7 separate regions of the Homo sapiens genome follow, and regions 2, 3, 4, 5, 6 and 7 are each linked to region 1. A link means that fine-mapping ties the variant in region 1 to the plasma level of a protein whose gene starts in the linked region. Region 1 holds a variant in brackets. A gene starts in each other region. All regions are shown on their forward strands.

Region 1 (4,336 bases):
ATATTATTAATCTCAAAATCCTGGGCTCAAGTGATCCTCCTGCCTCAGCCTCCCAAAGTGTTGGGATTACAGGCGTGACCCACCATGCCCAGCTGAATTATTTAATTTCACAGTTATAAAGGACACAGCTCAAGAATAGCCAAATGGAAGAGATACATAGGATCTCTACGTATGGAGGGTGGAGGTGTGGATGCCATGCCTTCTACCACCTTCCCAGCACCTACACCTGTTTATCAACCTGGAGGCTCTTCAAAACCCCTTGTTTGGGGGTTTTTATGGAGGTTCCATTATGTAGGCATGATTGATTAAATCATTGGCCATTGGTGATTGAACTCAATCTCCAGCACCTCTCTGGAGGCTGGGAGGTGGGGCTGAAAGTTCCAATCCTCTAGTCATGCCCTGGTCTCCCTGGTGACCAGCCCTCTTCCTGAAACTATCTAGGCTACCCCCATAGCACCCCCCGGGCCCCCAGTGGGGAATCATCTCTTTAGCATACAAAGACACTCATCACTCAAGAGATTCCAAGGGTTTTAGCAGCTCTGTGCCAGGAACTCTGGGCAAAGGAAAAATATTTATTTTTTATTACACTACAAGGGTTAAGGTAGACATCAAGGTGGACATCAGGACTGGTGTCCTGCCCTGGGCCCAGCCTCGGGCCAGTGGGCCTCCCAGCACCTGCCTGGCTACAAGGGTCCCTAGATGGGTACAGGGGTATCTTCCTCCTTTCCTTTCTTTCTCCAGGAGATTGTGACTGCTTTAAGCTGCGGCAAGAACATTGTGCCCATCATTGATGGCTTCGAGTGGCCTGAGCCCCAGGTCCTGCCTGAGGACATGCAGGCTGTGCTTACTTTCAACGGTATCAAGTGAGCCCCAGGGCCCTGGGACCAGGGGGGTAGGGTACAAATCACCATGACAGGCAGAGTGTGGGCAAACAGCTGACTAGCAGCTCCCTCTGCCCAGCTGTCTGAACCACATTGGCTCCTGTGCCCACAGGTGGTCCCACGAATACCAGGAGGCCACCATTGAGAAGATCATCCGCTTCCTGCAGGGCCGCTCCTCCCGGGACTCATCTGCAGGCTCTGACACCAGTTTGGAGGGTGCTGCACCCATGGGTCCAACCTAACCAGTCCCCAGTTCCCCAGCCCTGCTGTGACTTCCATTTCCATCGTCCTTTCTGAAGGAACAGCTCCTGAAACCAGTCTCCCTGGGCTGAGACAACCTGGGCTCTTCTTAGGAAATGGCTCTCCCTCCCCCTGTCCCCCACCCTCATGGCCCACCTCCAACCCACTTTCCTCAGTATCTGGAGAGGGAAGGGAAGTCAGGCTTGGGCACGGGAGGTTAGAACTCCCCCAGGCCCTGCCATTGGGTTGTCTGTCTCCGTCATGGGGAGGGTCCCTGCTCAGTTCTGGAGACACTGGAGTTGGGGTGGGGGTGGTTCTGCATTCCCTTCTCCTGCTGATAGCAGTCAGCTTGAGGAGGATGACGGAAGGCAGCCTCAGACAGGAATTAAGGCAATGCCCAGGCGGGCCTGGGCACTGTATTCTGAGCAAGGGCCTGGGCCCAGGAGCCAGCCAGGGATGAGTGCCATCATGGCTCTCCACTCAGACTGTGCCTGGCCCCTGCACTTACAACTTCCTGCCGCTCTGTGGCCTTGCCCTGTAATCACTCAGTGCCCTTAGCTAGCCTGACTAAGTCCCAGATCCCCTACAGCTTCCTTCGGTGTGGTATCTTTTGCCACATCCAGGGCGAGGGTTGAGGCAAACCAGCCCTCCCTCTGACTTCCTTGTCACTGCAGCCAGCTTTGCTGCACTTGCTGGTGCACAGGAGCCTCCTGTTTGGGCCTGGGTCTGGGCATGGGGAGGCCGTGCCTCAAAGCCCACCCTACCCCATGCCTTGGTGCTGTGCCTCAGGCTCCTTCCTGGTCTGGCCCAGCTGGCTTCCCCAGCCCCTCAGCCATCCAGGGCTACCCACTGCTTACTCAGGGACCAGGCAGCCCCCATGGCAGTAAAAGCAGCCTAGACAGAACCTGCAGCTCTGTGGAAAGAGGCAAAGTCCTGAAAAGGCAAAGGGTTGTCACTTAGGGCAGCTTCTCCAACTTTAACATGCATCCAAGTCACCTGGGAATGTTGTTAAAATCAGGAGATCTGGGGTGGGGCCTAGGACTCTGCATTTCTTACAGATTCCCAGGTGAGCTGATGCTGGTGGTTAAGGGTAGCAAATCTCTAAAGCACGAAGCCCTCACAAATCTTTGCCATTTCCCAAACACTCCGCTCCATGGTCTCCAGTCATCAGAGCAACTCTACCTGGTATTATCATCCCCATTTTACAGATAATGACACTGAGGCTCAGAAAGGTTGAGGATAAGCCCACTTTCCTGTCATTAGTGGCAGCCCCAGATCCAGACCTAGGCCTCCTGGCACCCAGTCCACTGGCAGTGGAATTGCTTTCCTGAGAATCATTCTGAGGCTGGGCTATTGCTTCTCCCTTGCTTCAAAGAATCTAGCAGCGGGGGATAGGATTTTGCAACAAAAAGCTGACCCAGAGGCCATACAGAGCAGGAATATCCCATTGCCCCCTCCTCCACTGGGTTCAGAGGGTAAGAAAGCACCCTCCAATAAACCCAGGCTCCAGGCCGTGGGGGCTGCTGAAGGCTCTTTCCCCGCAAGGGCCAGGTGTTGACACCTTAAAGCTGGCTGCGCCCCCAGCCCCACTCTTGGCTGTGCTGGCCAGGTGACTCCTAGTTCTTGGCCACATCATCAGAAAGTCAAAGGTCTCACTCCAGGTTTGGGGCTCCTTCCTTCCACTCCCCTCCCTGCCAGAGTCTGTCTTGGCCAGTGCCAGCCTCGATGCTTTGGTTTTGACCCCACCTGATCCTCCTTTCCTCATGCAGCACAAGTGCTCACCGGGGCCAGAGCCAGGGCATGGATATGACAAGCAGGGCAGCCTGGACACTGCCCTCACAGGACAGCGCCAATAACAATACAGTGTCTGAGTATCTCCAGGGGATGATTTCTGGCTCTTTGTCTCCAATCAGTCCCACTCCCTCCTGAGGTCCCCAAGGGCAGTATTCAGAGAGGTTTCCTGC[G/A]TTTTATTTCTATTTGGTATACCCTCCACTGTTGTCCACTGCCCTGTGTGGCCTTCTGGTTGACCTCTGCCCGATCTTCTGTCTCTCTGAGGGAATCAGAGTCCAGCATCCAGCCCCAGCTGGAACAGCTGAAGTCACAAGCCTCCTCTAAGCCAAGGCCAGTGTGTTCAGAGGTGACTGCCACCCATACTAGGACAAACACAGCTCAGATCACCAGGTCAAGCACCTAGGCCTGGCTTCTCCTGAGACAGAGGACTCAGAAGTGGCCTTTCCTCCAAAGCCTGCTCAGACACAGGTCTGTAGGGCCAGGGTGTTCTGCTTGGCTGGGCTGCAGCTGCTACCCCTCGGTTGGGGCTGAGTCAGCCAGATCCTCCCCCTACTTCTCCCCAAGGGCCAAGAACTGCTCAGGGACATTAAAGGTCAAAAGTCCAGCCACACTCATTCATCCTTTCCCCAGGCCCATGAAGAGAGGCATCTCATTGTAGAATGTATGAGGAAGTGGGAAGTATCTCAGAGAATCAGCTAAGTTTCCTAACTTGTCCATCCAAATGTGATCACCACGATTCAACAATTTGGGGCATTGCTGATCTAGCCGTTCCTAGTGGGGCTTGCTCAAGGTTGCACAGCGAGTCAGTAGAAGCCCTGGCTGGCCCCACTTGGTACCAATCCACCAGGCAGCTCAGGGCTCCTGCCCAGCCCAGCAGCTTCTGTTGTCTAACGTATGGCAGGCAGACTGGGAGCAGGAAAACAGAGGGCCCCAAAGCCCAAGGCACCAGAAGGTTTGTTTCAGTTTGCTGAAGCTGATTTGTAATGATTGGCACTCTTCAGCCAGGGGAGTGGGTAGGCCATAGCCAAGGATCGATTCCCCAACCACAGCAAAGGCAACACTCTTCCTCCAGAGATCACCAAGCCCCTCTTACCTCCCTCCCTCCTTCCCAAGGCTGGCACTAACCAGGTACCACATTCATTGTTAAGGAATGGCTGATGACTGCTACACGTGTTGGGAACCTGGTTGGGGCTGTGCAGTTTGGGCTGGAAGGAGAGATGCCAGCCCTCGTGCTGCCTCTGGTCCCTGAAGTGTCACCTCTCTCAGGACCTCTCCTCTGGCCTGTGGGGTTATAAGTGATGGATAGCAGAAAGGGAGAACTGACTCCTGTCCCAAATAGCTCCTCTGCCACCTGTCCTGCAGTGGGCCTGTGTGGGTTATGATTCTAGATCCTAGACAGAGGCTGGGTCAGCTGTGGATGGGGT
Region 2 (4,484 bases), not on the chromosome of region 1:
ACTGGGTGAAGAGGGGATGGGGTGGAAGGGTGGAGGTCAGAGGTGAGGAAAGAGTAGAGAGGTTGTGGCAGACAACCAGGAAAGAAAGGGAGGTGGCTTGGACCAGGATGGTGGCAGTGGAGAGGGGAGAAGTGAACAGGTTGGGGGGGATTTAGGAGGAGAATGGGCAGGACTTGATGATGGGTGACAGGGGAGAGAGGAGCCCAGTTCCCAGGTTGGGTCCCTGGGGGGCTGAAGTACCCACACTGGGCTAAGGAATGCCCAAGGGGGAGGAGCAGTTTGCAGAACAGGCACAGTGCTGGGACACTGCCCTCGAGGAATAGATAGGACACCTGAAAAGGGCCGTCCTGGTGGAGGAGCGTAGAGGGATCTGGGGTTCAGCGGGAAGGTCCTGACTGGAAGCAGAGATCTGCAACTTCCCAGGATGGACGGGGCTGGGAAGGTTGTGGGTCTCTGGGTCTCTCTCAGCTTTCCAGCCCCACCCTAGTGCTCACCGCCAACGAGTGCTGGTCATGCTGATCTCCGCCTCTGTAGCGCCCTCTCCCAGCACCAGCGTGCTCACTGTCATCCTGTCCATGATCTTCTTCAGCCAGGGGCAGGTGGAACCGATGGCCAGGTTGTACCACTTCCCATAGATCTAGGAGGCAGGTGAGCTCTGGGGGTCTGCATCAGTCTCAGACCTCAAAGCAGACCTGGCTGACATCTGCTCCCCACCCTCCACCTCCTCCTCTTCCTCCTCCTTCTCCTCAAAATGACTTATCCTTTTAAGGGATAATGTCTTACAACTAATCAGAGGCCACACACCTTCAAGGGAGGCCAGATCCCTAAGAGTGGCGTTTCAGGCATCACAGCGAACCCAGGAAGCAGGTGTGCGGCTGGGGTCCCAACCTGCCCTGCAGAAGGGCTAACTCTCTCAAGATGTGGGATCTGTCCATAGCTCCATCAACCACTGCTCCCCAAGAGCTGGAGTCCTGTCTTTTACTCCTCCAATGATGGGGTGCTCCCCACCTTGCAAGGCAGCCCACAGCCCCATGTTAGGAATTATTTCAAAAGTATAATGAACATGATGGGGTCATTCAGGATAGGCCTGCTTCCTCTTCCTCCTGAAAGTGCACGGGACAGCTGAAGGAGCCCTCAGGCTCCTACGGAACAGGCCAATGTGCCCCACACCCTTTGCGTCCCAGACTGCCACAGGGACCTGCTCCTCATTGCCCCTCTGCCACGACCTTTCCTTGTCCCTAAAAGTAAACAAAACCCACATGACACCACAGCTAGAAGGTTCTGAGACCCTTCATACAGACATGGAGACAGCCCCAGGTGGGCAAGGGTATTCTCAAAGCCACCCCGGGATTTAGGGCAGAGTGGGGGCTGGAAGGCAGCTCTGGCACTCCACACTCACAGGAGAGTGTCCTGCCCCAGTCCAGGTCTCTCCTTGTGCCCAAGCCTCTGAATGTCTCCCAACCCTAATCTCTGTCCTGCTTCACCTCTTCCCATAAGCCCCACATGCCCAACCCAAAAGCTGCTGGCCACATGCCCACGCTGTGCCACCCCAGGTGTCTGTCCACAGTCAGGCCAGGATGTGGGCAGGGGACACAGGAAGAGCTAAGGGAAAGATGCCACAGAGAGAGGGGAGTCATTAGAGAAGGAAGGGCTGGGAGGTCTGGGCAAAGCTAGGTGTCTGCACGGGGGCTGCAGGGCAGTGGCAGGCAGGACAAAGCCTTCTCTGGAGCAGGTTCCCATTAACACAAGGGTTCCCCTTGGAGCCCACGAGGACAGTGCAGAAGGTGAGGATGTTTGACTCATAGAATGTCAGCCAAGAGACCCACGGAATGGCAGGGGATAGAGCTGTACCTTCAAAGGATCCCATAATCCCAGATGATCTGAGTGGAAGCCTGAGACCCCGAGACAGGCCGCACTTGCCCAGCAGGGCCCATCTGCCTGGACTCCCCATCACCACATCCACCCTACCACAGAGAGCGGCAGCCTTACCCGAGAGATATTGAAGTTTTCCTGCACTTGGATGTTGTCGGGCGGCGTTGGCACAGGGCCAGCGCTCACCGCCAGGCAGGCGCTCAGCAGCAAGAGCAGGGCCCCGAGGCTCCTCATGGCTATGGGCTCCTCTGCCTTGGTATATCCCACAGGCTCGGTCTAGCAACAGAAGGGCCACCGCCTCCCTGCAACAGGGCAGCTGTGAACTGAGGCTGGGGAAGGGGCCTGTGGCTTGTAGTTGACCTCAGTGTTTGCCCTGCTCAGCTGGGGCCAATTACAGCCCCAAGGACAGCTCCAATCGATCCCTGTAGCCTGGCTGGGGTCAGCAGTACCAAGAGGCCGGGATGGCTGCTTCAGAAGAGGCATTGGCCAAGCACAATAGGGCCCTGGAGCACCAGGATTGGGCTCCGCCCCCCAAAAGTCCCCCACAGAGGGCATGCGAGGATGGGGAGCGACCTGGCCTTTCTGCTGAGTCATGCCATCTGGACCTCACAGCTCTGTGAGCCAGCAGGTCAAGCCTGATTGGGCCCATTTCTCACAGGAAAAAACTGAGGCCCAAGGAGAGGAAGTGACTTGCCAGAGACCTCAGGGAAGTCTATGGGCAGAGCCAAGACCAGAACCCAGGTATCCTGTCTCCAGAGTTCCTTCTCCAGCCCCCAGGCTTGCCCTAGCCTTTGCAAATAATAGAGACATTAACAATGATGACTGTTACGAGCTTCCGTTCACTGAGCACCTGCTATGTGCTGGCTGTGTACCAGGCACTTTACACGTGCCACAGGTGTCCAGTAAATCCCCACAACAAGCTTACGAAGTAGGTGCTATTTGTCCCCTTTACAGGCAGAGGAGTTGAGTCTCCAAGAAGTGAAGTGACTTGCCCAGAATCCCTCAGCCGGGAGTGGAGTAGCTGGGAAAGGCGTGGTAGAGACCATGGACGTGGGAGCCAGGCAGCCTACAGTGGCACTCACTGCTGTGTGACCTTGGGCAAGTCACTTTACCTTTCAGTGCCTTGGTTTCCTCATCTGTAAATGGGGATAATAATAGTTCCTAGCTCCTAGCATTGTTGAGTGAGCACCTGCAATGCGCTAGGACAGTACCCAGCATAGAGTAAGAGCTGAGTGTTTGTGGTGGGTTGAACAGTGCCCCCTCCAGAATCCATGTGCACCCCGAACCGCAGAATGAACCTGATTTGCAGATGTGATTAGTTAGATGAGGTTGAACTGGATGACAGGGGTTTTAAATCCAATGACCGGTATCTTTATAAGAGAATGGTGAGGGAGACTCAGACACAGGGACACAGAGAGAAGCACGGGGAAGATGTGGCGTGACGCCGAAGGCAGAGATGGGAGGGATGCAGTGACACGTCAAAAATCACCAAGGATTGATGGCAGCCACCAAAAGCTAGCAAAAGGCAAGGAAGGACTTTTCCCCAGAATCTTCAAAGGGAACATGGCTCTGCTGAAAATTTGGTCTCAGGTGTCTGACCTCCAGTGCTGAGAGAAGACACATTTCCTAGCAGCCCTAGGAAACTAATACAGTAGTTATTAAACTTAAGGTTTTATTTATTTATTTATTATTTTGAGACGGAGTTTCACTCTTGTCGCCCAGGCTGGAGTGCAGTGGTGCGATCTCGGCTCACTGCAACCTCCACATTCTGGGCTGAAGTGATTCTTGTGCCTCAGCCTCCCGAGTAGCTGAGATTACAGGTGCCCACCACCATGCCTGGCTAATTTTTGTATTTTTAGTAGAGACAGCGTTTCACCATATTGGCCAGACTGGTCTCTAACTCCTGACCTCAGGTGATCCTCTCACCTCAGCCTCCCAAAGTGCTGGGATTACAGGCGTAAGCCACTGCGCTCAGCCTAAATTTAAGATTTTAAATGAGAATTTTTTAAAACCCAGGTCCGTTGTCTGTGAGCTCACACTCTTGCCAGCAATACCAAAGGCCTCTCTATGAATTTCCCTTCTCCAGTGGTTAAATCTACTGTCCTTACTTCCTCCCTGCTCTTGGCATGGAACATTCCATACTCTCAGCCACCTCTCTGTTAGAGCTGGGAATGACCCCTTCGGGCAGGCAGTCCCAAGATTAAGACCCCTGCTTATGTGAGAATCAAAGGATTCCCCCATGTAGTCAGTGCAGAAACAAATGGTGTATCATGTCCCTTCTGTAAGATTCAGTCAGTACATCCCTCTTTCACTGGTATCCAGAACAAGTGTGCTTCTATTCATAAATGTGTTTCCTTTGCTCCGTCACCCTAACCTTGGCCAGTGATTATATTCCCTTCTTGCTTTGGCTGCTAGGAAGCTCAAAGCCATGATGTAAGTTTAAGCACAGTTACTGTCTTGGTTTAGCTTTCTGGGACAGTTATCTTCGTGTTCCTTGTGTTCACAAAGTTTCTCAATCTTTGATGTTTTAGTTAATGATGGTAATGAGGAGGTGGTAGCCCCCAACTTCTCCTTGTTCTGCATGATATTGGAGGTGGCTTTCCCTCGCTAAA
Region 3 (4,000 bases), not on the chromosome of region 1:
TGGGATTACAGGCATGAGCCACCACGCCTGGCAGTTTATTTATTTTTCTGAGACAGGGTTTCCCTCTGTTCTCCATCCTGGAGTCCAGGATCATAACTCACTGCAGCCTCCAACTCCTGAGCTCAAGCAATCCTCCCATGTCAGCCTCCTGAGTAGCTGGGACCAAAGGTGTACACCACCATGCCTGGCTAACTCTTAAATTTTTTTTTGTAGAGACAAAGTTTCACTATGTTGCCCAGACTGGTCTTGAACTCCTGGCCTCAAGCAGTCCTTCCACCTGGGCCTCCCAAAGTGCTGGGTTTATAGGTGTAAGTCACCATGCCTGTCTTTCATCTCTATGTCCAATGACATATTCAGCCTTATCCAGGTTCTATCCCCAATGCATCTCCAGCTCAATCTCCAGCCTCATCTTGCACCCTGGCCCCAGCCTATCACAAGCTTCCCGCCCCACTCCACCAGCCCTCACTCACAGAGAGGCGGCGCCAGGCCTGGAAGGTCAGGGAAACATCAGGGAGCTGCTCTCCCAGGGGCAGGAGGTACAGGTTCACTCCTGGCAGGTGAGATTCCGCCTGGGGGGCAAGGTCTGTTAGTGGGGGCCAGAAGGGATTGGGGGTCTGCCCATCTCCAGCGCCAGCTGCATTAGGGGGACTTACAAAGCGGTGGGCCTGGCCCCGAACCTCGGAGAGCAGCTTCCTGGCGAGATGCAGGCTGACTGTGAACTCCCTCCGCAGCTCCTGCAGGCTCAGCTGGGGCCTCCCTGGGGGCCTTGGGAATCCCCAGACACCAGCTTGAACCAGGAGCAAGGGAAGCAGCAACAGGCTGAGCCCTGGAGAGATGGGAAGAGGGTGGCAAGACAGGGAGAGAGCTTGAGAAGGAAGGGAACATGCCTTTTCTGAGCCTGTGCTAGCTGTGAGCACGGTGCAGGCACTTTGACCAGCATCATTCCTCTGCCTCCTCAAAACCACAATGGAGGCTGGGTGCGGTGACTCACACCTGTAATCCCAACAATTTAGGAGACCGAGGCGGGCGGATCACCTGAGGCCAGGAGTTCAAGACCAGCCTGGCCAACATGGCGAAACCCTGTCTCTACTAAAAATACAAAAATTAGTTGGGCGTGGTGGTGCATGCCTGTAATCCCAGCTACTCAGGAGGTTGAGGCAGGAGAATCGCTTGAACCTGGGAGGCAGAGGCTGCAGTGAGCTAACACCACTGTGCTCCAGCCTGGGCGACAGAGCCAGACTCTGTCTCAAAAAAACAAAACAAAACAAAACAAAACAAAACCCCACGATGCAGCCAGCACGGCCCCCATATGGCATCTCCGCATGGTGTGCCCACTTTTGCAAAAAGACCAGAAGCCTGATCCTTTTTTTTTTTTTTTGAAACAGAGTTCTGTTCTATCACCCAGCCTGGAGTGTAGTGGTGTGATCACAGCTCACTGTAGCCTTGAACTCCTAGGCTCAAGTGATCCTCTCGCCTCAGCCTCCCAAGTAGCTGGGATCACAGGGACACACCACTGTGCCTAACTGTTTCTATTTTTTTGTAGAGACAGGGTCTCACTATGTTGCCCAGGCTGGTCTTGAACTCCTGGCCTCAAGAGATCTTCCCGCCTCAGCCTCCCAAATTGCTGGGATCACAGGCATGAGCCACTGTGCCGGGACAGAGACTGGATTTTGACCCCCATAAACTCCCTTGGCCAAATGCCTTTTTCAGTGAGCAACCTGCACAACCACGTGTGGCAGCCTCAGTGCTATTGTTCTCCCCAATTTGCAGGTGAGGCTCAGTGAGGTTGACTTGCCCAAGGTCAAATAGCCAGAAGGTGGGAAGCCAGGACTGGATTCCAGGTTTTTCCAAATGCAGAGCCCATGGGTTTTCCCCAGAGAATGCAGAGGGAGGCAGCCATCTGCCCCAGGAGTGGGCACACCATGTTCTGGCAAGGATTCTTTGGGCTCAGCCAAGCGGCTCTGATGGCTTGAACTGGCCATGAGGTCCCCAGGGATGGGCTGGCAATGCCAGAGGCTCTATTCCAGGGAGTCAAAAGGACAGGTTTGTCCAGTTTCCACCACGGCAGGTGGATCCTAGCAGGGTAACCTGCCTGGGGCGAATCCACAGTATGGGAGCTTTTTTTTTTTTAAGACAGATTCTCACTCTGTCACCCAGGCTGCAGTGCAGTGGCGCGATCTCGACTCACTGCAACCTTCACCTCCCAGGTTAAAGCAATTCTCCTGCCTCAGCCTCCTGAGTAGCCACCACGCCTGGCTAATTTTTATTATATTTAGTAGAGAGGGGTTTTGCCGTGTTGGCCAGGCTGGTCTCCAACTCCTGACCTCAGGTGATCCGCCTGCCTTGGCCTCCCAAAGTGCTGGGATTACAGACATCAGCCACTGCGCCCAGCCCAGAATGGCTGAATTCCGAGTGTGCTTCCTGACCTGTGTTTTCCTGGAAAGAGGGGCAGCGGATGGGCGCTCTAGGAAGAGGGCAGCATTCATCAATTTCCCCCTCAGGGAGAGGAAATCTAGCAAGCACAAGAGTTACACAATTCTCCTCGAAACACAAACCAAAACTGGCCCGAAGTCCATCCTGCTCTCCCTTCTCTCCCTGCCTCTTCCCTGTCCTCTCTCAATCTCTAACCCCTGGGCTCTGCTCTTCGAAATGTCCCCTGATAAAGGTGAAGGGGAGCTTCTAGGGACATCTACCTCCCTCGTGGGCTTGCAGATGTGGTGGGCGATGCCTAACGTAAGATCTCTGGCATTCAGACTCCCTGGTTTTGGGGCCACTCGGACCCTCTGACATCCTGGAGACTTAAGGCAGAGTGGGGTTCTTCCTAGCTCAATGTTGGGGACAGGGTGGGTGCCCCCAGGCCCTGGTGGATCAAGCCCAACCGTAAGTGAGCTGTGCCATCTCCAACCTGACCTCTGGAGACCCCAGACCCCCTCCTTACCCTCTGCAGCTGATCCTGGGTCATTGGCTCTGGCCTTTGAAGGCTCTGTCTCCATCCTCCAGCCTTTGGTCCCTACCTGCCCTACGTGGCATGTTACCTTCTCCACTGCCTACTGCTCTGGTTCTAGCCCCTGAGTTCTGCAGCCACCAGCCGCAGATTGGACCTCTTTCCAACATCAAACTAAAGACCTTTGACCCAGTGAGGCTGCTGACATCTTGGTCCCAGTGCTCCACTTGTGCCAGCACCTCGTTCTGCTCTTCCTCCAGCCGGCCCCATTCTCAGTCTTAGCCAAGCTGTTTGGCTTCTGCTTATTCACTCCAAACTCTTCATTTATCTGCCTAGACCTGGTCCTTGTCAAATTGCTGGTCCAACCCTCCCCATTCCCACTAGCCAAGGCCTCCTTCTCATCCTCTGCCCAGCCCTGGGTCAGACCACCACCCCACTGCCCCAGGCCCCCACCCAGTCATGCCAGCCTCCCTTCCCATGCAGCAGCCAGCCGAATCCTCAGTCTTGGCCAAGTTGCTGCTCTCAGCTCTCGACCCCCCATCTGCACCAGCCAAGCTCGTCCATTCTCTGCCCAAACTCAACCAAGCCCCCCACCCCTGGCTTCAAACTCACGCCAGCCAAGGTCGCCTGCCGTCTGGCCCATGGCGGGGCCCAGCCTCTTTGGTCAGCCATCTCCTGGGTAGGGGGGGTCTTATACTGGGGGCTGTGCCCGGTTTCACTTTCCGTCCTGCTTGTACTTTCAGCTTTGTGTTCACTCATTCTTCCCTCTCGCCACCCCTTGCTAAAATGGGGAAATGTAATTTCCCTTCCCGGAGGGGGTGGGAGGTATGATGGGGGGTGACGGGAAGCTGGGGTTTCGGGACATCCAAGCTCCAGACTCACTGCTAAGCTCCCACGTCCAGCCCTGTCCTCAATGTCCCATGCTTGGGTGAGCCATCCAGCCCTATTCACTGGTTGATCCCAGAGTCCCAAACCCCCTCCTGATTCTCGGCTCTGCCACCATCATCCTAGGGTCTACTGTCCTTCCAAAGATGGATAGCCAGGTAAGGGGATTGC
Region 4 (4,484 bases), not on the chromosome of region 1:
CTCGGCCTCCCAGAGTGCTGGGATTACAGGTGTGAGCCCCCACGCTCAGCCTTTTTTTTTTTTTTTTTTTTTGACACAGAGTCTCACTCTATCTCCCAGGCTGGAGTGCAGTGGCGTGACCTCGGCTCACTGCAACCTCCTCTCACTGCAACCTCCGCCTCCCAGGTTTAAGCGATTCTCCCACCTCAGCGTCCCAAGTAGCTGGGATTACAGGTGCGCACCACAACGCCCAGCTAATTCTTGTATTTTTAGTAGAGACGGGGTTTCACCATATTGGCCAGGCTGGTCTCGAACTTCTGACCTTGTGACCCGCCCGCCTCAGCCTCCCAAAGTGCTGGGATTAGAGGCGTGAGCCACCACACCCGGCCCTCTGTCGTCTTCTCTTATCTCTCTGTCTCTCTTTCTGTGTCTGTCATCTCCCCGTATCTCTATTTCTGTCTTCCTGTCTTCTTTCTGTCTCTCTTTTGTCTCTCTTTCTCCATCTCTGTCATTGCCCCATCAGTCTTTTTGTTGTTGTTGTTGTTCTTTTTGAGATGGAGTCTCACTCTGTCACCCAGGCTGGAGTGCAGTGGTGTAATCTTGGTTCACTGCAACCTCTGCCTCCCAGGTTTAAGTGATTCTCCTTCCTCAGCCTCCAGAGTAGCTGGGATTACAGGTGCCTGCCACCACGCCCAGCTAATTTTTGTATTTTTAGTAGAGACAGGGTTTCACCATTTTGGTCAGGCTGGTCTCGAACTCCCAACCTCAGGTGATCCATCTGCCTTGGCCTCCCAAGGTGCTGGGATTACAGCCGTGAGCCACCGTGCCCCACCATCTCTCTATCTCTGTCTATCCTACTCTCTCATCTCTGTCTCTCTGTCTCTGTCTCTCATCTTCCCATCTGTGTCTCTCTTTCTCTGTCTTCCTCCCTTATCTCTGTCTCTGTGTCTCTCTCATTTCCCTATCTCTGTCTTCCTCTCTTATCTCTGTCCCTCTGTCTCTCTTCCTCTGTCTGTCTGCTCTCTGTGTTTCTCTTTCTGTTTCCATCATCTCCCTGTCTCTCTCTGTCTCTGTGTCCTCCTCCTCTCATCTCTGTCTCTGTCTCTCTCATTCCCCTGTCTCTCTCTGTCTCTATCATCTCCCTATCTATCTCTGTGTCCTCCTCCTCTCATCTCTGTCTCTCTCTGTGTTTCTGTCTCTGTCATCCCCCTTTCTCTGTCTCTGTCATCTCCCTGTCTCTCTATCTCTGTGTCCTCCTCCTCTCGTCTCTGTCTCTCTGCCTCTCTCATCTGTATCTCTCTCTGTCTCTGTCATCTCCCTGTCTCTGTCTCTCTCTATCTCTGTGTCCTCCTCTCATTTGTCTCTCTGCCTCTCTCATCTGTATCTCTGTCACTTTCTCTGTCATCTCCCTGTCTCTCTATCCCTCTATCTCTGTGTCCTCCTCTCATCTGTCTCTCTGCCTCTCTCATCTGTAGCTCTCTCTGTCTCTGTCATCTCCCTGTCTCTCTATCCCTCTATCTCTGTGTCCTCCTCTCATCTGTCTCTCTGACTCTCTCATCTTTGTCTCTGTCTCTGTCTCTGTCATCTCCCTGTCTATCTCCGTGTCCTCCTCCTCTCATCTCTGCCTTTCTCATCTCTGTGTCTCTCTCTGTGTTTCTGTCTCTGTCATGCCCCTTTCTCTGTCTGTCATCTCCCTGTCTCTATCTATCTCTGTGTCCTCCTCCTCTCATCTCTGTCTCTCTCATCTGTATCTCTCTCTGTCTCTGTCGTCTCCCTGTCTCTCTATCTCTTTGTCCTCTTCCTCTTGTCTTTCTCTCTGCCTCTCTCATCTGTGTCTCTCTCTGTCTCTGTCTCTGTCATCTCCCTGTCTCTGTCTCTCTCTCTCTGTGTCCTCCTCCTCTCGTCTCTTTCTCTCTGCCTCTTTCATCTGTGTCTCTGTGTCTCTCTGTCATCTCCCTGTCTATCTCTGTGTCCTCCTCCTCTCGTCTCTGTCTCTCTGCCTCTTTCATCTGTGTCTCTCTGTCTCTGTCTCTGTCATCTCCCTGTCTCTGTATCCCTCTATCTCTGTGTCCTCCTCTTCTTGTCTCTGTCTCTCTGCCTCTCTCATCTGTGTCTCTCTCTGTGTCTCTGTCTCTGTCATCTCCCTGTCTCTCTGTGTCTTCCTTCTGTCTTCTCTGTCTCTCTGCCTCTCTCCCCCATCTCTGCCTCTGTCTCCCTCCATGTCCCTGAGCCCCTGCCTGCCTGCCTGGGGTTTCCCCCGCTTCAGGGCAGCGGAAGGAAGGCCAGCAGGACATGCTGTGCTGGGAAAAGCCAGCAGGTCTCCACTTCTCCCTTTCACAGCCTCCTCCCCCGCCCCCACCCTCGGGGCCTTCCGAGCAGGGGTGGCCTGTGCTCCCCAGGGGGCTGGGGCTCCTCCACACCCTAATTCATCTCCCTAGCGGCCCCACGAGCCCCACCAGTGAGTCAGACCTGAAGGAAGTCGGGGAGGGGGCGGGCCTTGACCCTGGGCTGGGCTTTCCCCTGGGCAGGTCCCAAGTCCTCACCTCCCCTCTCAAGTCTCCCACGACGTTCCCACCCACTCCTGAGAGCAGAGCTGGCCGCAGCCATGACCCCGCAGCTTCTCCTGGCCCTTGTCCTCTGGGCCAGCTGCCCGCCCTGCAGTGGAAGGAAAGGTATGTGGGGCCCCTGGGGGACTGGGGGGCCCAGGCAGACGGACATGACACGAGGACTGGCCTCGGATCATGTCTGGGGTGGGAAATCACATCCTCCCGTGCCCAATGGTGGGATGGGGTTACCCTCCCATTGTACAGATGGAGGAACTGAGGCACAGAGAGGCAGAGTGCCACATTGGGGGTGGAAGGATGTCACCTTGTGGGTGATAGGGACTGGCAGTCACAGCTCAGAGGTATCCATAGAGCTACACAGACATAGCTACACAGACATGCGAATTTGAGTCACACTCATTCCTTTGGTTTCTTTTTGGTTTTGTTTTTTGAGACAGAGTCTCACTCTGTCGCCCAGGCTGGAGTACAGTGGCACCATCTCAGCTCACTGAAACCTCCATCTCCTGGGTTCAAGCGAGATTCTCCTCCCTCAGCCTCCCGAGTAGTTGGGATTACAGGTGCCCGCCACCATGCCCGGCTACTTTTTATATTTTTAGTAGAGATAGGGTTTTACCATGTTGGCCAGGGTGGTCTTGAACTCCTGACCTCAGGTGATCCACCCACCTCGGGCTCCCAAAGTGCTGGGATGACAGATGTGAGCCACCGCGCCCGGCCGACATTCATTCATTTTGCACTAGAGAACATCTCCATGTCCTTGAAGACAAAATGGTTACAGCAGGGCATGGTGGCTCATGCCTGTAATTCCAGCACTTTGGGAGGCCAGGGCGTGAGGATCGTGAGGCCAGGAATTCGAGACCAGCCTGGGCAACATAGTGAAACCGGACCCCACCAATCTGTACAAAAAATTAAAAAATTAGCTAGATGTGGTGGCACGTGCCTGTAGTCCCAGCTACTTGGGAGGCTGAGGTGGGAGGATAATTTGAGCCCAGGAATTGGAGGCTGCAGTGAGCTATGATTGTGCCACTGCATTCCAGCCTAGGTGACAGAGTGGGATACCTTGTCTCAAAATAATAATAATAATAATAATTTATAGGCTGGGTTTGGTGGCTCACGCCTGTAATTCCAGCACTTTGGGAGGCCAAGGCAGGTGGATCACCTGAGGTCAGGAGTTTGAGACCAGCCTGGCCAACATGGTGAAACTCCCTCTCTACTAAAAATACAAAAATTAGCCAAGCGTGGCAGTACATGCCTGTAATCCCAGCTACTCGGGAGGCTAAGAATCGCTTGAACCCGGGAGGCGGGGGTGGCAGTGAGCCGAGATCTCGCCACTGCACTCCAGCCTAGGCGACAGAGGGAGACTCCCTCTTTAAAAAAAAAAAACAATTACAAAAGAGAGAACACGGTAAAATCTCTCTCTCTTACCCGAGTTCCTCTCTGTAGATGCTTAAACCTCAGCTTCCCTATCTGGAAAATGGGCTAGTAGTCCTCACCTAGATGGATTGCAGTGGGGATAAAAGATGACAGATGACTTTTGTCCATGTACCTATTTATTCCGAAAGCCTTTATTAGGCACCTACCATGTACCTGGTGCTGGCTGGCAACGTGGCAGGAGCCCAGCGCACGGGAGGGCTATGACAATCTGGGGGTAAACCAGAAGCTCACTCTTTCTGTCTTCCTCCAGGGCCCCCAGCAGCTCTGACACTGCCCCGGGTGCAATGCCGAGCCTCTCGGTACCCGATCGCCGTGGATTGCTCCTGGACCCTGCCGCCTGCTCCAAACTCCACCAGCCCCGTGTCCTTCATTGCCACGTACAGGTCGGAGAGCCTGGAAGGGGGCCTCAGGGACACTGGACTTCCTGGAGAGCCCAGAACTCTGGCCCTGAGAGCCCTGGGGTCAGGAAAACTGGAGACCCCGACATCCTGAACCCCAGGCCTATGGAAT
Region 5 (4,000 bases), not on the chromosome of region 1:
TTGATCAGCACTGCCATAGCTCTCCTTCTAGAACTAACCGGATAAACCATCTGGTGCAGAACGCTTACTTCCTCAATCAGTGGAATTTCACAGCTGTAGTTTCAGCTTAAGTAAAATTTGAAACTAGATTGAAATTAGAAATTGTGCTGGAGGTTGCTAGGTGACCCGGGCCAGGAACGTTGCTACGGACAGGGATCAGGACTGTTTTGGATTGAGGGTATGTCAGATTTTCCTAGAAACTTCAGAGTATTCATTCTCTTAAAACAAAACAACAAAAAAACAAACAAACAAACAAAAAAAAACTTAACCACTAGGGGGAGGGAGAGGAAACCAAAATAACAATAAAACAACAAAAAGCCCCCAAAGGCATTATTCTACAGGAAAACAGACAGACCAGACATTTTTCCTGAGAAAAAAATAAATCTACCCCTCCCTGCCCACTTCTCCACCCCAACTCCTAGTATCATAACATTAATTCAGAACTTAGCTTTGAGAAGTTCAATGGATGGTTCCGATACTACTTGATGGGAAGTTTCAGCCATCAGTTAAAACCTAAGCCTGAGTGAAGCAGAGCAGGCCTCTGCTTAACTGCATTAAGGAACATTCCAGGAAAGCCCATGTCTATGACATTAGTACTAATGACAACATCCCATCCCTACCTCCTTCCCTGCTTGCCTACCAGCATACCCTTTGCACTCACAAAAAGAATCTAGAATTCTATTTTGCTACACAATCTTGCCTTCTCTCACTTCTTTGGTCCAAGATGCCTGATTTTAAATCTCCAACAATGAAACGTCATACCCCTCCTCCAGGATGACGGTAGATGGCCATCTCTCCCTCCTCTGAGTATCATCAGCACTTCGTTTACATAATTCACTTGGATCTAGATTGTCCTAAAGTTAGTTATCTGTGAGCATCATGCTAGGAGCTAGTGTTGATATGAAGCAGAAACTTTATGTGGGCATCTTGGATATATGCATATCATTATTATCATTTTATAGAAGACAAAACTAAAACTCAAGAAGTAACTTGGCCACAGTCATTTCTCAGGTAAGTGGTGGTACTGGTATTTGATTTTTGGTCCACATGATAACACTGCACTAGCAGCTTCCCTTATAAGGTGCTATATGGCAGAATCTTTTATATTCCCAAGTCACCCAGTAGTTTCTTTCTTTGCAACTCTATATACACAATTACTTGCCCAATATCTGCTTTCTCCATTAGACTATGGGTCCATGGTGAAAGGAATAGTGTCTATCTTGCTTTTCACACTGTCCTGATGCCTAGTGCCAGTGGAATGCCCATTATAAAGAAATAAATATCTGTGGTGCTTCTAGTTCCTACAGTGGCACCTTGGTTTTACAAAAGGGCATCTGGACTCTATGTGTAAATACAAAGTGTCCATTTGCAATCATTTTCAAAATAAAGTAAGTCTCAGAAGCTAAAGAAAGGGGAAGCAAAATTCTTCCTATATAAAGTATTTACTGTGTTCAAGACATATACGAAGTCTTATCTTCTGATAATGCTGTATCATCTAAAATTAGTATTATCTACATGTTTGTCTATCTTCCTGTACAGACCACATATAAAAATATTTTACTATTTAAATTTATGGATACTTCTAAATAGAAACATATATTATTTAGTGGAAACCCTGAAATTTAACTCATTGCTAGTATGTTTGTTATTAATTAAATCTTTGACAAAATAAAAAGGGCTAGGAAGAATAAAAATGTCCCCATATTAACGGCAGCATTATTTATACTAGCCCAAAACTAGGATGATTAAATCAATTGTGGTGTGTCCATACAATGGAATACCATACAGCAATGACAACGGACAAATTATTCTATATCCTACAGTAGAGATGAATCTCACAACAGAACTTTCAGTGAAAGAAGTCAAATGCAAAAAATTGAATAAGTTCCATTTATAGGAAGTTCAAATACAAGCAAAATTCATCTATGTTGTTCAAATCAGAATACTGATTGTTCTGGCCATAGACACAGTAGTGATGGAAGCTCTTGAGGTGCCGATAATATATTTCTTGATCTGTGTGCTAGCTCACAAGTGCTCACTTAGAAAAACTGCATTAGGCACTTACCACTTGCACAATTCTCTATGTGTTATATTTTAATAAAGGTTTACTTTTTTAAAAGCACTCCATAGTATCTCTAGCGATGAAGTTATACACACACACACATACATACATATATATTTTAACATACTTATGGGTAGATTCCTATCCAACTTACCTGTTCTTTAGTGTCTTTACTATTTATTTACTTATTTATGTTTCTGTATCCTAGGAACTAAGTAGAAGACTACCTAGCCTTCTATTCATTATTTGTGGGTTGGAGGTTGAAGTTCAAACATTTACTCAAACACATCCAAAACACATATGTGGCTTAAATATGGCTTTTCCTAGCCTTGCATAAATGTCTGATTCATATCTTGATGTACTCTACACTCTAGTGTCATAGAGAAAATAAGTCATTGGTCATAGAAAAACCTACATGCAAATCTTATTAACTTGATCAAAACCTAAGCTTAAAAAAAAAGCTAAGTCACAGAGATTCCTTTCTTTTCCAAATAACATTTTAAACACAATTTTTAGCCCTATTTAGTGAACTTCAATTCTTTAGATATGTTTTAGAACATAACATACTGCCAATATTCTCCACAGTATATTGAAGTTGAGAAGTGAAATAATTTTAACAATAAAATTTTATTAAAACATTACACAGTTAAGAAGTGTGTGTGTGAGAGATCTTTTCTCCTAATTATTCAAAATTTCACATAATATTTACATTAGAAAAATCTATCATGTCATATTCTAATTATAATGGTTTTAAGAAGACTAACGTCTTCTTCCAACTTACTCTGAATCTAAGGGACCACTTCTTTGCCACTAATAATAAAAGTTCAAGTTCATTAAGCAAAGATAGTATGGACTACATGAGGGCGTTAATATTCTGAGATGAAGACAGAAGGTTAATGACTAAAACTTTCAAACAAGTTTCTCTCTCTCTCTCTCTCTCCCTCTCTCTCGCTGTCTGTCTCTCTCTTGCTGTCTTCCATAAAGTCAGCAGGAACTTTGCAGCGTAAAAGGACACCCTAGGGGAAGCATGGCATAACTTGAAAGCGGTTTCCTGCTCCAGCCTAACCCCAAGCCTCTCCTGGGAGGGAGCGAGTGGAGCCTTCTCCCCGCCGGTCCGCTGGGAGGTTGGGAGACCAGGTGGCAGCAGCCTCCCCAGGCGCCGGGCACCCGTCGGCTGGCCCAGGGACTTACCACGAGCGCGCAGCACAGCAAGTTGTTCATTGTGGTCCCCGGAAACCTCAGGGGCTTGGAGGCGGCGGCTGGGCGAGCGCTCCGGTGCGTCTCCGCAGCCCGTGCGCTCATCACGTTATATATAGCGTCCCGGCAACAGGAAGTATCGCCTGCCTTTGATCAGTCATTTTTCTATCCTGGACCAAACTTTGCACCTTTCTTTTTTAGGAAGCTTGGGCGGGAGCGGTCGGGGGGTGTGCAGAAAGCTCCAGGGTTAACGCTTTCAGGGCTGGGGCGGAAAGGATCCCCCAGGGAGGTGGGGCGTGAGGGGTGGGGCGGTGGTGTCTGGCCCCTGGGAGAGCAGGGGAAAAAAAAGCCACCGGGCTGAGGAACAAGGCGGCTGCTGTCTCCGCGGGGCTCTGAGGTTTCCCGGCCCCTTCCCGCCAGCGGCCAGCCTCCTGGCAGCCGGGACCAGCGGTGGGAGGGCTGGGCACACGCTGGGCAGCTGCTGTGCTTGTGTCTCCTCCACCCTGAGAGTCCGATCCAGCCAAGATCCGGACGCAGTTGGAGTGTGTCCCAGACCTTTGTCCTCTCGCTGGGCGAAAGCTGTGAGTTTCCGCCGTACCCGGCTGCCTGACCCCTTCACTTCGGGTTCTGAAACCTCAAATTACAGGGCCCCTCTTTATGCATGGCATTGTCTGAGCCCTTTTCGGGGAGTTCGCAATCATT
Region 6 (4,484 bases), not on the chromosome of region 1:
CTCCCATGACCATCTCTGGTTCTTTCACCTTTTTTTCTGCCTGCACAGCTGCCATCTGTCCCGGCAGGCCTGGGTTTAGCTGCTGCCTCCTCAAATTCCCCAGGCAAGGCCTCTGCAGGCAAACCAGGTTTCACTCTCCTGCTATGTCCCCTCTCCACCCGGCTCAGCACACCGTACCACAATCACATCGGCAAACTCTTGCTCCAAGAGTCTTTTCAGCTCCCCTCGGGTGAGCGCTGTGCAGTTGCCCTCCGTCCTTGCATAGCGCCTGAAGGCCTCGATGATCCCATTAATGTTTTGCAGTAACTGAGGCATCTTTGAAGTCAACCTGGAAAAGATGAAAAGTTCCCTTGGAGGCTCCATAATCAACCTCAGCTATTTCCTTTATAGCACGTCTGCTGCTAGGTCTTTCCTTGCACGTTCAGCTCTGTTTTTAGTTTTCCTTTGTCCTTTCCTACATAATGCATCTTATGTATGGGAAGGAGGAGCACACAGGATGGAGGCAGGTTCCTGAGTCAGGATTAAATGCTGGCCCCACCACTTAAGTATGGTGTGAGCTGGGACAAGTTGCTTTGCCTCTCCATGCCTCAGTTTACTACTCATTGTAATTGAAGGTGATATTAGTACTCTGTGGGATTATTGTGAAGATTTAAAGACATAATTCATAAAAAGCACTTGGCAGATGCCTGGCTTATATTAAGTGCTCCTTATTAAATATAATTATTATGCTATTATATACATATACACACATATAATTTTTGTACACCTATATAATCACTTTCCTGTACATCATCTCTTCTAATCCTTATTATTTCCACTTTTTTTTATAGGTGAGGAAACAGGCTCAGAGAAGTTAGGCCACACAATTTTTAAGGAGCCAAGAAATCCTAGGATCCATTTTTCCTTAACCCAAATGCAATGGGCTTTCTAGAATGTACCCTGTGGACAGGATTTATTTATTTATCACAAGGGTGTTAGGGTCCCATCGGGAACACCAAAAGGAAGTAAATACATCTGTGAGTCAACCCCTGTCTTGGATGGGAGCCAAGCAGAAATTCCAGGGACACAGCCCTCCCTTCTTGTTTTTTTTGGGAAAGTGGGAAGAAACTGGGCTACCACCTGCTGGGAATGCTCAGGAGGGGGGAACCTTCTTTGGGTGGGAGGCCTTCCAGTTCTGAGGGTCCAAGTTTCTCTGCATGTCGCCTCTGTCCACAGCCCTGAGACTTATCAGAGAAGTCAGCTTGCCCAACAGGCACGTGGCTCCATCAGGCCCAGATTTCTGGTGACCTATGAGTTGGTTCCTAATCAAAGGGAAAGCTTTTCTTTTTCATTAGCCAGAAATCTAGAGGTAGGTTGAGGTGAGGCCTGGGTTTGGTTGCATGAGCAAAAGGAAAAGAGACTTGAAGATTCATTAAGCAGAAGCCTTGGAGAGACCCAAAGGAGGAGATGGTATCAAAGATGACAAGTCTCAAATGCAAGGGGAGATGGAGCCTGTAGCAGCTGGAAAGCCAGAGAGAGGATGGGACGAGGCAGATATAGGTAGGAGAAGAAAGAGAAAAAAGGAAGGAAGGAGACTTGAGTTCTAGAAAAAGCAGATTAGTGTGGCCATGAGGACTCAGTAAGTCATAGCAAAAGGTGGGCTGTTCAGGAGAAACCCTTTCTAGGACCTGGTAACCAACAATTTCAGGCAAACTTTTCATCAAGGTAAAAAACTGGGGATGTTTTCCTCAACATAGATGAAAAATATCTTTCTTTTTTTTTAAAACCATGTAGCAGACTTTAACCACTGACCTTTAGATAATAAAATAATAAGATGACCTTTTAGTTACATTTTAGATTCCTTAGAAAAATCTACACATATTTTGCCTAAATATCACCCTGGTGTAGGAGAGGGGAATCATGTAAACCCCTTCATCCATGACACAGTTTGATCTTATTGTCTAGGTTGGCATAAGTAAACTGATTCTGATCCCATAGACTCTCAGCACTGCAAAGAAGCTTCCAGAGCCTTAGAAAAAAGAAACCTTTGCTGATCCAGGAAGGCACATGGGTGGCCCCATAGCCGCTGCCCACACAGTTTCCCAGTGAGAGGAGCTGCTCCCAGGCCAGCCTCAGGGAGGAGGAGAAAGCCTGATTGCTTCAGGAGAGCATGTTTCCCAACGGTAGCGTTGGTTTGCCCAGTGCTCACAGCTAGCTCTGAAGGATGCATAGTCCATACCTGACTGCCCCAGTTTTATGAGCTCAGATCACCAAGACACTGAGAATGAGAAAGAGGTTTCTTATGAGGGGACTTACCTAATGCCCAGGTGGGATGAAACAAGTGGCTGTTAAGTGGTGTGAGGAGTACCAGGTCAGTGTGATGAGAACCTTTTATAGGGGTTTTAACCAAGGCTCTTGTTTTAGACAGGATATCCTGCCCTATGGGAAGGCTTGATTCATCCAAGATCCAGCCCAGCCCAGCCACACCTCCTCTTGTCTCTGTTTTACCTGCTGATGTGTGACTGCCTTGGTCTAATTAACAGGCCCCTCCTACCACATTTGGTACCTTCTGTAGCTGAGTCCTCTTGACAGGGAAGCTTCTTTCCATTGTGATGGGCTCAGCAGTGCTTGGTACAGGCTGGGGTCCTGGTGAACATTCTTTGTCTCTATGAGCCTACAAAGTTATGGGACTCTTTCCTTTTTTTTTTTTTTTTTTTTTTGAGATGGAGTCCTGCTCTGTCGCCCAGGCTGGAGTGCAGTGGTGCGATCTTGGCTCACTGCAACCTCCGCCTCCTGGGTTCAAGCAATTCCCTGCCTCAGACTCCTGAGTAGCTGGGATTACAGGTGCCTGCCACCATGCCCAGTTAATTTTTGTATTTTTAGTAGAGACAGGGTTTCACCATGTTGAACAGGCTGATCTTGAACTCCTGACCTCATGATTCACCTGCCTCTGCCTCCCAAAGTGCTGGGATTATAGGTGTGAGCCACCGTGCCTGGCCACTGTTTCCTTTTTTAATATAAATGTTCAAGAATATATCTATTGAGGTTAACTTTTACAAAGTAGCCACTCTGAGAGGGCACACATGTTTTTGTGGTGATGTTACTTAGAACTGTTATTACTTAGAACATTTTTTGAATTCTTGTTTTGTAAGTGCCTTTCACACCTAGTGTATGAGACACAAGAAAGCCAGTTTCATCTCTTTAAAGTTGGTCTCATTTTTAATTAAAACAAAAAAAGTTAATACCTTCCCCACCCCATGCTATGGGTAGGTAGCATTTTGTAGCTGATGAGAAAAAAGGCTTACCATGATCATGTGGTAACTCCTCATTGCAAGGACAGGAAACTCAACTGGTGGCTAATCAGCAAATATTTATGGAAAGCTTGCTCCATTTCAGGCAGAGGGCTAAGGCCCTAGGAATACAGTGTTGAATACGATGGCAGCAGTTTCAACTCTCATGAAGTCTATAGCCTGGCCATCCCAGGGGTAAGTCCCCAAGAGGTTAATGATAATGGTATTGCCATTTCATTTCATTTGATTTTATTCCATTTTCATTACCATCTCATCTTATTTGATCTCCCTAGCAATCCTCTGAGGTGGTATGGCTAAGCCCAATTCATAAATGAGAACACTGAGAAATCCTCAGAGAAGTAGCCACTCTGTGAAGCGGAGACGGTGCTGGACTAGAGCCCCTCAGACTCCAGGCCTGTGTTCTCTCTGTTGCACCATGCTGCCATTTATTCTTCTCTCATTGAGTTTTGGCACCTTATGAACATCACACTTATCCTCAATGCATGAAGAACCATTCCTGAGGAGGAAGTTTTCTGAGCTCAGAAGCCAAGTCCCAAAGAGTGCTCTTGAGTGGCACTTTGCAGATAATATATACTGTGTAGCTTCCTGAGTGACTCTGGAAGGGAAAGCCATCTTTACCATCCTCACTTATAGATCAGCATGCAACAGACAGGAAAGGGAACAACAGGATAGGAAGGCATGGTAAGGGCCTTGGTTGAAGAGACTGGTGTATTGAGGGCAGCCCTGTAGCAACAGCACAGCCTCCAGCACTTCCCCTCAGGGCACAGAGCACTGGGGAGTTCCAGACTGCAGGAGGGCAGGATGCAGGCTTTGTGTTTGGAGAGATCTGTCTACATGGGGACAGGTTGGCTCCAGTCCTGGGGTGAAGGTGGGGTAGGCATACCAGCCAGGGAAAAGCAGAGTAGGGGCTTCAACCTTTGGGAGCAAGAGGGGGCTGAGGTTGCTTCTGCCTGATCAGAGTTAGAAGAAGGCCAGTATGAGAGGGTGAAGTTGGAGAACAAGAGGGAGAGCCGATTAGACCTTCTTCTGTGGTGGTGTTTGAAGCTTTTTCTGATGGGGCTTAGAACTTCCAGAAAGGTTTGGGAACTGAGGGTAAGTTAGGGAAGTAACAAGCCAGAGGCTGTATCTAGAAGATGAATATTTGGTAGGTATTATTAACCCAATTTATAGATGAAGAAACCAAGGCACAGAGAG
Region 7 (4,000 bases), not on the chromosome of region 1:
CTTTGATTAAGTGCAGTTTTCTGTTTTGAAATCCATCCTGTTTTCATCTATATGCTCATTATTTTCTATGCCTCTTGCTCTTTCCCCAGGATAATTTCCCCTGTTACAACAATCTCTTATTTTATCCAAATTTTTCATTCCCCAACTAATCTCTTCTGAGTCATTTGCTAAGCATATTTTTGTTACTTCTGCTTTTCATACTCTACAATGTATGCCTTGTTCTCTATAGGATAACTCACAGCAATATTGTATAATTCATTGTTGATCATCTCATTTCCTAATATCTTTTAACAGAATCTAATACAATGCAGTGTTATAAGTGCTCAAAGGTGTGTTGAATGAATAAGTTAATAAGTTATAGGTTAAGGCTTGCTAGCAAATGCTTCTCTCTACTAATGTTGATTATTCCTAGGCATTTATTTCACTATGATAATTTCTTCAAATGAACATATTCATGAGAGCTTGACTGTTCCTTTTTCTATTGAATATTTCTTCATCACAATATACTGTATTCCTCACTTTCCTAGTACATCGTGTAGCAGGAAAAGAACAAATGTGAAAAAGAATGTTTGGAGCAAAGTAATATATATATATTACCAGTTTTCAATGTGAATTTTTCATATTATAGCAATAAAACCATCTGTGTCATAATATTTCTCTTACTTGGAGAAAAGCACTCGTGTTCATCAAGAAAAGTTTCAATTGAAATTACTAATGAGGTATAATTTACTTGTTCAGGAAAAGTTTAAAGTAAAATCCTCAACATTTTATTATGTTAAAGACATAATTGTTTTTATTTGTATGACATAGAAACTAGCATATAAGAAAGCAAATATTAGCATATAATTTAGATTTTTCCAAAAAAGTTCTAAATTTTAATTTTATAAAATTTTTTTGCTATTAAAAATACAATTACCTCAATTATTTTTAGCCATAATACATTTAAATCGTAATTAACTAAAACCCAAAGTAACTAGATCCTTCAATAGACTAGATAGAGCATCTGTATTTTCCCTTTGAGAAAGAAGTAAATGAAAAGAAAAACATTCTATATCAGGGATTTAGTCAGTAGAGAAATTTGGAGAAAATCTTGAGTGAAATTTGTACAAATGCCCATCAACCCCCCAACCGGAATCACTAGCATTGCTCAGCTGTATGCCTCAAAGGCATTAGCTGGTTCTTTGTTACTTATAATTCATAGAAAAAAAGAGACCTAAGGAAGAGAAAGAGATTGATTCCTTTAACCTGAGAATCTTTCCTTTCATTCAAAGTAAAAAAAAATCTAAACAAAGATTTTTTATTGGGTAAATCTTAAATGAGAAAGTTAAACTCATTATACTACTTTATTTGAACATTTTGCCTAATCAAAAGTTTAACATAACTTTTTTACCAGATTTTGCTTCCAAAAATTGTGCTTTTGTAATAGATGCAGTCTATTTTAATATTAAAAAATCCAATATACTTTTAAATTTTAACAGTAGGAATACATTCTTAAAAAATTGAAAATTATTTTATTATCATACCTGTTCAATTTGCTTTAGTTTTCAGGGGTTGATGAATTTGTAAATCCTTTAAATGAATCAGAAATTCCTAAATTCTTTAACTGAGTCTCTTAAAAATCCACAGTAACTCTGTGTCCAGACAGGGCTGTCTCTTGAATTACTGTAGCAATTTAAGCAAATACAATCTTCTTGGAAAACACTCGGGTTGAATTAAAATTATGTATTTCTTTTCATTACATGAAACTTTGTGGATTCAAATTAAGATGCTTGTGTTCTTGGTCAGATTTATGTGGCTTACTTCTTTCTTTTCCCCTTAATTTTGGTTTGAGGTGTGGCAAGAATTTCCTCTAATGTGAAAGGCAAACAAAACTAAATGAAACAGCATGTACTGATTACTGTTTTTATTTTCATTTTCATGCCAAAGAATTCTTCAAATTAAGGCCCACTGTGACAGGGAACTCCAGAGTCTCAGCAACTTAAGGTGGAACTCAAAATTTCTTTTTTAATTTTTTGAGATGGAGTCTTGCTTTGCTGCCCAGGCCAGAGTATAGTGGTGCAACCTCGGCTCACCACAACCTCCACCTCCCGGGTTCAAGCAATTCTCCTGTCTCAGCCTCCCAAGTAGCTGGGATTACAGGCATGAGCCACCATGCCTGGCTAATTTCTTGTATTTTTAGTAGAGATGGGGTTTCACCATGTTGGCCAGGCTGGTCTTGAACTCCTGACCTCAGGTGATCCTCCCGCCTCCACCTCCCAAATTGCTGGGATTACAGGCATGAGCCACCACGCCTGGCCTGGAACTCAAAATTTCTTGAGTCCCTTGGTTATTCAACACCTAGGTTCATATCAGTACTTCTATTTGTTAAAACAAGAAATCAGGATTAGAAACATAACATTTCGCATTGTTTATTTTTAAAATGCACTTGATTGTCATTGCTTACACAGATTAACTATACGACTTTTCTATACAAAGGCTTACATCTTCATTTTTATCATCATTTTTATCAGCTATCTCATTTCTCCTCTTTTTGGCAGATGTACCCACTAGAATGACTTCTAATATCCTTTCAGATAAAATTAGTCAGTTGGTTGCACTCCAAAGGTGTATCTTCAATTTGCCTGTTTTTACTATTGCACAAAATAATTCTGTAGTATTGAATAAAATGGGATGAAAAGCTTATGTTACTCAATAGCTATTGCCTTTATTTTGTAGATTTAGAAAATTTCTTCATTTCATAGAGCTATCTCTCCTGAATAGTAACAGTTAACTGTTTTTAATGTTTAATTTTTACACTGTTCTCATATTCTAAACAGAGAGTTGACTTGTGTCTTTTGGCAGTAGATTCGGAGTTCATTTTGGGGGGGAATTCTTTTAAGCTTTTACAAACTAATAAGATAAAGTGAATCCTGGAGTTCATTTTGTTTCCTCAAAAAAGTGTTTTCCATTAGCTTTTTACAAAGAACTCACAAGATTTATTTTGTTAAACTTTGCATTAAGAAAAGTATACAGTGTTTCAAGTGATGCTTTGGCAGTTGTAAAAATCTAGTCTATTATTTGAGACATTGGTATGAAAAACGTGGCAGACCACACTTTAGCCAAGATTCCATCTTGTTACTGATCTTTTCCATATGTTTTCTGTTAGTGTCTTTGTTCTTAAAACTCAGGCTTTCACTAAGGAAGAGAGAGCAAATCTGTGTACTTTTTCAAAAAATTGTTTTATAGGCCTTCACAGTCCTTTTGGAAGATTAACTGAAAATCAACAGCCTAATGTTTATATAACTTCTCATTAACTCTGTGATTTGGATTTATGATATTGATTATGTTATTCATGTTTTTAACAAGTGTGAAAGAAAAATCAGTAGATAACTAGAGCAGACAGAATAAAAATGTCTAGAAAATTTAAACTGATTGGCAGTGTCTATCTAGGAGGTTTAAGGTGGCAAGGGATGGGGATGGGGGGAGGTGGTGGTAGTTAGAGTCAGGCCTTAAAGGAAAAAATAGGGGATGTGAGTTTGTAATAGTTCACTGTTTTAGTTAAGTGGTTATAATTGTAGCAATTGGGGAGAAAAGGAGTTGAATTGTTGAAAAGTGTAAATTATATGCTATGATTATACTTTGATTGAAATAGATTCAGTATCTCAAAGCTGAGTGACACAGGACTGGCTAGGAAAGGCCCTCCTGAGACCTGCTTAATTAACATAATAAGCATTACAATTTTCTGCTCATTTGTTCCACTTTATTCACTGGACACCTACTTTGTGCAGATTTTAGATGCTTGGGACTCAGCAGTGAAAGTCTCTGTTATAGAGAAGGAAAACAGAAAATAAACATAAATAAGCATAAAATGCAGAATATAAACAATGTAGAGTGCGATGGAAGAGAATAATGCAAGGTAAAGGGATAAAAATGAATGAGGCATGGGGGTACGGGTCAACAGTTCAGGCACCGCTGTATGTGGGGACTGGAATGGAACAATTAAGTTACTGTATGGCAGATG

Which allele goes with the higher level. Alleles are on the strand shown, and positions count from the first base shown. The strength of an association depends on the size of the effect and on how common the allele is.
As copies of G replace A in region 1, the plasma level of the protein whose gene starts at base 2,197 in region 2 goes up (strong association).
For the plasma level of the protein whose gene starts at base 3,610 in region 3, G is the high allele of the variant in region 1 and A is the other (strong association).
As copies of A replace G in region 1, the plasma level of the protein whose gene starts at base 2,557 in region 4 goes down (strong association).
In carriers of allele A in region 1, the plasma level of the protein whose gene starts at base 3,386 in region 5 tends to be lower than with G alone (strong association).
For the plasma level of the protein whose gene starts at base 2,345 in region 6, A is the high allele of the variant in region 1 and G is the other (strong association).
As copies of G replace A in region 1, the plasma level of the protein whose gene starts at base 1,793 in region 7 goes up (strong association).

The links. PIP is the chance, under the fine-mapping model, that this variant and not a neighbour inherited with it causes the effect. Protein levels are from antibody-based Olink assays in UK Biobank. Linkage for the fine-mapping came from a reference panel and not from the study's own genotypes, which makes the PIPs less certain.
Region 2: it holds the start of AMBP, and the variant in region 1 is fine-mapped to the plasma level of the AMBP protein (UK Biobank, PIP above 0.99).
Region 3: it holds the start of IL27, and the variant in region 1 is fine-mapped to the plasma level of the IL27 protein (UK Biobank, PIP above 0.99).
Region 4: EBI3 starts here. The variant in region 1 is fine-mapped to the plasma level of the EBI3 protein (UK Biobank, PIP above 0.99).
Region 5: TNFRSF11B starts here. The variant in region 1 is fine-mapped to the plasma level of the TNFRSF11B protein (UK Biobank, PIP above 0.99).
Region 6: CRNN starts here. The variant in region 1 is fine-mapped to the plasma level of the CRNN protein (UK Biobank, PIP above 0.99).
Region 7: OMD starts here. The variant in region 1 is fine-mapped to the plasma level of the OMD protein (UK Biobank, PIP above 0.99).

The regions. Positions count from the first base shown.
Region 1 is chr17:28,395,164-28,399,499 of GRCh38, forward strand. It overlaps SARM1 (sterile alpha and TIR motif containing 1), which reads left to right. Exons shown (of 9, transcript NM_015077.4): 8 at 742-863; 9 at 994-4,336. The coding sequence ends at 1,123. It overlaps SLC46A1 (solute carrier family 46 member 1), which reads right to left. Exons shown (of 5, transcript NM_080669.6): 5 at 1-4,336. Among named protein-coding and RNA genes, the nearest start is that of SLC46A1, 8.9 kb to the right of the region's middle. RefSeq lists enhancers at 518-1,201, 1,885-2,568, 3,333-3,422. The variant G/A (reference allele first, on the strand shown) is at 3,086.
Region 2 is chr9:114,076,104-114,080,587 of GRCh38, forward strand. It overlaps AMBP (alpha-1-microglobulin/bikunin precursor), which reads right to left and starts at 2,197. Exons shown (of 10, transcript NM_001633.4): 1 at 1,990-2,197; 2 at 495-637. The coding sequence starts at 2,106. LOC107987120 (a long non-coding RNA gene) reads right to left here. Exons shown (of 3, transcript XR_001746905.1): 3 at 3,837-4,484.
Region 3 is chr16:28,503,225-28,507,224 of GRCh38, forward strand. IL27 (interleukin 27) reads right to left here and starts at 3,610. Exons shown (of 5, transcript NM_145659.3): 1 at 3,557-3,610; 2 at 654-826; 3 at 471-569. The coding sequence starts at 3,587.
Region 4 is chr19:4,226,967-4,231,450 of GRCh38, forward strand. EBI3 (Epstein-Barr virus induced 3) reads left to right here and starts at 2,557. Exons shown (of 5, transcript NM_005755.3): 1 at 2,557-2,651; 2 at 4,225-4,357. The coding sequence starts at 2,585. RefSeq lists enhancers at 2,777-2,866, 3,830-4,331.
Region 5 is chr8:118,948,500-118,952,499 of GRCh38, forward strand. TNFRSF11B (TNF receptor superfamily member 11b) reads right to left here and starts at 3,386. Exons shown (of 5, transcript NM_002546.4): 1 at 3,293-3,386. The coding sequence starts at 3,322. It also overlaps a transcript of COLEC10 not described here.
Region 6 is chr1:152,411,919-152,416,402 of GRCh38, forward strand. CRNN (cornulin) reads right to left here and starts at 2,345. Exons shown (of 3, transcript NM_016190.3): 1 at 2,296-2,345; 2 at 178-328. The coding sequence starts at 315.
Region 7 is chr9:92,422,679-92,426,678 of GRCh38, forward strand. It overlaps OMD (osteomodulin), which reads right to left and starts at 1,793. Exons shown (of 3, transcript NM_005014.3): 1 at 1,524-1,793. The region is part of intron 5 of CENPP (centromere protein P); the gene reads left to right.